Linked DNA regions of Homo sapiens: region 2 is linked to region 1. The links come from fine-mapping of genetic effects on gene expression. A gene starts in region 1. The other region holds a variant in brackets. All regions are shown on one strand. Distances are from middle to middle. Region 1 holds the start of GTF2F1 (general transcription factor IIF subunit 1). Region 2 overlaps CLPP (caseinolytic mitochondrial matrix peptidase proteolytic subunit).

Evidence for each region. PIP is the estimated chance that this variant, and not a neighbour inherited with it, causes the effect.
Region 2: its variant is fine-mapped to the expression of GTF2F1 in skeletal muscle (GTEx, PIP above 0.99).

The regions. Positions count from the first base shown.
Region 1 is chr19:6,391,739-6,394,750 of GRCh38, forward strand. It overlaps GTF2F1 (general transcription factor IIF subunit 1), which reads right to left and starts at 1,426. Exons shown (of 13, transcript NM_002096.3): 1 at 1,246-1,426; 2 at 1,119-1,165; 3 at 164-236. The coding sequence starts at 1,257. MIR6790 (microRNA 6790) reads right to left here and starts at 1,245; the gene lies at 1,183-1,245. It also overlaps the pseudogene LOC390877.
Region 2 is chr19:6,363,770-6,366,269 of GRCh38, forward strand. It overlaps CLPP (caseinolytic mitochondrial matrix peptidase proteolytic subunit), which reads left to right. Exons shown (of 6, transcript NM_006012.4): 4 at 683-870; 5 at 2,489-2,500. Among named protein-coding and RNA genes, the nearest start is that of CLPP, 3.5 kb to the left of the region's middle. The variant G/A (reference allele first, on the strand shown) is at 1,369.

The DNA.
Region 1 (3,012 bases):
TACTGCACCCAACCCTTTGTCATCTATCTTTTCTTCACTTGGAGAAAAGTGAGAAAATTAAGACTTAGTGACTATGACAGTTAAGCAACTATCACAACCACCAAGGTCAGGGTCAAGTTCTCTCACCACCCCAGCCCCTGACCCCCAGGACTCAGAGACTTACCTGATTCCACGTAGCAAAGTTGACTTTGTCGGCTGCATTAAAAGCCATGATGTTATATTTTTTGGTTGTATTCCTGGAGTGGATGAGAAGAGGTAGTGTCAATCCAATACAGCAATTCAATCATTAATTTAATCAGTCAATGCTATTGAACCATTAATTCAATCAACCACCCAACTGGATCGTTAATTCAATCAAATCATTACTTTAATTCAATCACTCAATTCAATTGAACCATTAATTCAATTCAATCATTCCATTCAATTGAATCATTAATTCAATTCAATTCACTCAACAAACCCACCCAGCTTCATTCAGCCTGTTTTGCCTGGCAACACTGGATACGGAAGACTCCAAGGATTCCCAGTCTGCCAGAGAAGCTAGACCCATCCTCTCCTGACCCCAGGCAGAAGAAGAGCAGATGGAGGGACGAAGATTTGGGGGAACCCAAGATGTGGAGATTATTGTGAACTCAGCCTTGGGGAGGAGGGAGGACAGGCAGGGAGTATTTCCTGGAGGAGGAAGATACTGGAGTTGAGTTTTGCAGAATCATCAAGAATTCACCCAGCAGAGTCACAGTTTAGGGGTTGAGGGGAGGCACTCATGGCAGAGGAACAGGATGTACAAAGGCCTGGAAAGGAAAGACAGCCTGACCACTTTGAAACAGGACGAGGAATATGTCCTTACAGCTGGCCTGGGCATCATGGGACCATATACTCCTCGAAGGTTAGGCCAGGGGGCTGGATCACCGTGTATTAATGCACTCATTCATTCATTCGTTCAAAAAAGCAGTGTTGTCCCCAGAGAAGCCTCAGCTTAATCCCAGCCCTGCCCTCCAAGTCTCTCCCGGTCTGGAGGGAGAACCACAGACAGGGCCAGAAATGGCTGGCTAAGAAGATCGTGAAGGTTTTCATTTTTGGGGGGTGGAGAGGAGTGGGAGATGGGGCTGGGGACTTACTTAGGAACTCGAACGACGTATTCAGTGACATTCTGGCTGCTAGGGCCCTGCGGAAAGAGGAAGCGGTGAGTGAGGGGTCGCCGAGGTCGCCGTCGGAACCCCCGAACCCCGCCAAATCCACACTCACTAGGGCCGCCATGGGCAATGGTCAGTGGTTCCGATCTGGTCCGACCCGGGTTCCTTTCGTCTCCTCTGGCGTGCGCGTCCCTCGATCCCGGGGAAGCCGCCGCTCGGTGTCGGGTCTCTGTGCCTGAGCGAGGACCCCAACCCTAGGCGCCTCTGGCGCTGGGAAAAGGTAACCGGAAGAGGCGCTCAAGCTACTCGGTCTACGCTTCTGCGGCCGCCTAACCCGGAAGCGAAACCCTCGAGCAGCCGCGTCGCGATGGCAACCTTCTTAGCGACTGTGGCCACCTCAGTGCGCAGTCACTTATGCTCCTCGGCGGCTATGGTCACCTCAAAAGGTCCACCGCGGTCCCTTTTTAGACTCAGCAAACCTAGGCCGAGTCTGAGATAAACTAACGGGCCTCTGTCGCTGGCGCTCTTGTATATAACGCGGTTAACTTCATCAAATGGGGGACCGCCCTCTCTCGTGACGTCAGCACCCAAGGACCGTGGGGCATCCTGGGTGGGAAGAGGGAGACGAATCCCCCTTGCGGGCTCCCAGGCACTTTGCGCATGCGCCTTGCCGCTCTGGACCTGGGGGGCCCAGAAGGCCGCGTCACCATAGCAACCGAGGCCTACTCGGGTCGGGTCGAACCGCCGCTTGGCTCCCCATGGGTCTGTTTGGGGTTCATTTCCTCCCCCTACCCCGAAGGGGTGGACCCCGTCATTCCCGCAAAATGACCGGGGCGGGGACCCTTGTGACGTTGAGCCGAGCCAGGAGGGGTCAGAGCCTGGGCGGGGTCGGGGCGCGACCACCCCAAGAGCTGCTGGCCGGATGGGTCTTTGCAAGTCCAAGCTGCCCGAGATGGGCAGGGCTCTGAGGCCCCAGGAGAAGGGTAACGTCGCGGGGGCGGCTGGCTGGCTTCCTGGGGGGAAGGGAAGGAAGCTGCCGAGAACAGGAGGGAGATGCAGGATCCCCTACCCCGTTCCAGGCATGCACACATCCCCCGAATCATGGCAGTAACACAACTGCGCATGCTCACGGCGCAACCATTCATTGCTCCACTTCGCAAATACTCCAGCACCTCCTGGGTTCGGGGCCCCGCAAGGTGAATCTGTCAAACCAGCTCCCCACGGAGGATTACAGTGTCCTCTCGAGGGTTACAGTGTCGTGGAAGAGACAGAGTCACAGCATGGGAATCTACAACCCAGGAAGGAGCAGGAGAAGCACAGCGGGGCTCTGAGGGCTCAGAGAAGAGGGGAGGTTTCAGTTGGGCACTGAGGGATGCATAGGAGTTGGCTAAGCAAAGGGAAGGCGGGCAAGACACAAAAGTTGGGCCATGAACTACAGACACCGTCGATGTGTCTGTTTTCATTTATTTCTCATCCACCACTAAATGTCAGGAACCGCCAACCCCTAGGAATATAGGAATGAGGGAGGCAGAAATAGTCCTTGCCCTCATGGAGTGTCTGGCTTGGGGGAGACAAGAACGAGTAAACGGCTGGGCACGGTGGCTCATGCCTGTAATCCCAGCACTTTGGGAGGCCGAGGCGGGCGGATCACCTGAGGTTGAGAGTTCGAGACCAGCCTGACCAACGTGGAGAAACCCCGTCTCTACTAAAAATACAAGATTAGCCGGGCGTGGTAGCACATGCCTGTAATCCCAGCTACTCGGGAGGCTGAGACAGGAGAATCGCTTGAACCTGGGAGGCAGAGGTTGTGGTGAGCCGAGATCGCGCCATTGCCCTCCAGTCTGGGCAACAAGAGCGAAACTCCGTCTCAAAAAAAAAA
Region 2 (2,500 bases), 28 kb before region 1:
CTTGTAATCCAGCTACTCGGGAGGCTGAGGCAGGAGAATTGCATAAACCCGGGAGGTGGAGGTTGCAGTGAGCTGAGATCGCGCTACTGCACTCCAGCCTACGTGACAGTGAGACTCAGTCTCAAAAAAAAAAAAATAGCTGCTTCTGGCTGGGCATGGTGGCTCACACGTGTAATCCCAACACTTTGGGAGGATTGCTTGAGCCCAGGAGTTCGAGATCAGCCTGGGCAACATAGTGAAAGCAGTGAAACCCAGTCTTAATTTTTTTTTTTTTTTTTTGAGATGGAGTCTCGTTCTGTCGCCCAGGCTGGAGTGCGGTGGCGCTATCTCGGCTCACTGCAACCTCCGCCTCCCGGGTTCACGCCATTCTGCTGCCTCAGCCTCCGGAATAGCTGGGACTACAGGCACCCGCCACCACGCCCGGCTAATTTTTTGTATATTTAGTAGAGACGGGGTTTCACTGTGTTAGCCAGGATGGTCTTGATTTCCTGACCTTGTGATCCGCCTGCCTCAGCCTCCCAAAGTGCTGGGATTGCAGGCATGAGCCACAGCGCCCAGTCATATTAATTTTTAAAAAAGGAGGGGGGCTGCATCTGTTCCACCCTCCCCAGGTTTAGGAGATGGAATAGGGAAAGGGTCGGGGGGAGCTGGTCCAGCCCCTCACTTGCTCCCCCGCCCACAGGTGGTGTGGTGACCGCGGGCCTGGCCATCTACGACACGATGCAGTACATCCTCAACCCGATCTGCACCTGGTGCGTGGGCCAGGCCGCCAGCATGGGCTCCCTGCTTCTCGCCGCCGGCACCCCAGGCATGCGCCACTCGCTCCCCAACTCCCGTATCATGATCCACCAGCCCTCAGGAGGCGCCCGGGTGAGTGCCAGACACGCGAGCTGCTGTTGGGAATCAGGACAGGGTCTAGACAGAAGGACTGACTGGGCGGAAGTCAAGCGTGGGAGGGGATGTTTTTTTTTTTTTTTGAGATGGAGTCTCACTTTGTCGCCCAGGCTGGAGTGCAGTGGTGCGATCTCGGCTCACTGCAAGCTCCGCCTCCTGGGTTCACGCCATTCTTCTGCCTGAGCCTCCTGAGTAGCTGGGACTACAGGCGCCCGCCACCACGCTCGGCTTTTTGTATTTTTAGTGGAGACGGGGTTTCACCATGTTAGCCAGGATGGTCTCGATCTCCTGACCTCGTGATCCGCCCACATTGGCCTCCCAAAGTGCTGGAATTACAGGCGTGAGCCACCGCGCTGGGCCAGCCGGGAGTGGATGTCTTAAAATGTGCAGGCCAGGCTGGGTGTGGTGGCTCACGCCTGTAATCCTAGCACTTCGGGAGACAGAGGCGGGAGGATCACGTGAGCTCAGGAGTTC[G/A]AGGCCAGCCAGGGGAACATAATGAGACCTTGTCTCTATTAAAGAAAAAAAAAAAAAAGGCCAGGCATGGTGGCTCACGCCTGTAAATCTTGACACTTTGGGAAGCTGGAGCAGGTGGATCATTTGAGGTCAGGAATTCTAAACCAGCCTGGCCAACATGATGAAACCCCGTCTCTACTAAAAATACAAAAATTAGCTGGGCATGGTGGTGCGTGCCCATAATCCCAGCTGTTTTGGGAGGCTGAGATAGGAGAATCACTTGAACCCAGGAGGTGGAAGTGAGCTGAGATTGCGCCACTGCACTCAAGCCTGGATGACAGAGCAAGACTCTGTCTCAAAACAACAAAGGGAAAAAAAGAAAATGCACTGAGGAGTTGTTTGCTGTCTCTTGAGAATTAGCTTCAGCTGGGCACAGTGGCTCACATCTGTAATCCCAGCACTTTGGGAGGCCAAGGCAGGAGGATCACTTGAGGCCAAGAGTTTAAGACCAGCCTGGGCAATGGTGAGACCCCATCTCTACCAAATATTTAAAATGACTCGGGCATGGTTATGCTTGCCTCTGGTCCCAGCTACTCAGGAGGCTGAGGTGGGAGGATTGCTTGAGCCTGTGAGGTGAAGGCTGCAATGAGCTGTCTTGTACCACTGCATTCCAGCCCCAGCAACAGAGGAAGACCCTGTCTCAAAAAAAAAAAAAGGCGGCCAGGCATGGTGGCTCATGCCTGTAATCCCAGCACTTTGGGAGGCCGAGACAGGAGGATCACTTGAGGCCGGGAGTTTGAGACCAGTCTGGGCAACATAGCAAGACCCCATCTCTAAAAAAAAAAAACAAAAAACAAACAAAAAAAAGGCTTAGCTAATGCTGAGACAGAGAGACACTGTTCCTCCCAGTCTGCAAGGCTTCAGATGCAGAAAATAACATATACTTAATCCAGTCAGAAAGCCTTCCTGGTAGTGGCAAGACTGAAGCAGGATATCGGGGGATTTACACAACCCCAGCCCACCAGCCTCAAACCGGAAGCCCAAAGCCCAGGGAAGCTCCTGAGTGCCACCTCCAGCCTCCCTGTGAGGGGCTGACGCCGATACCAACCTTTACCCCCTCACTCCCTTGGACGTCCCTCAGGGCCAAGCCACA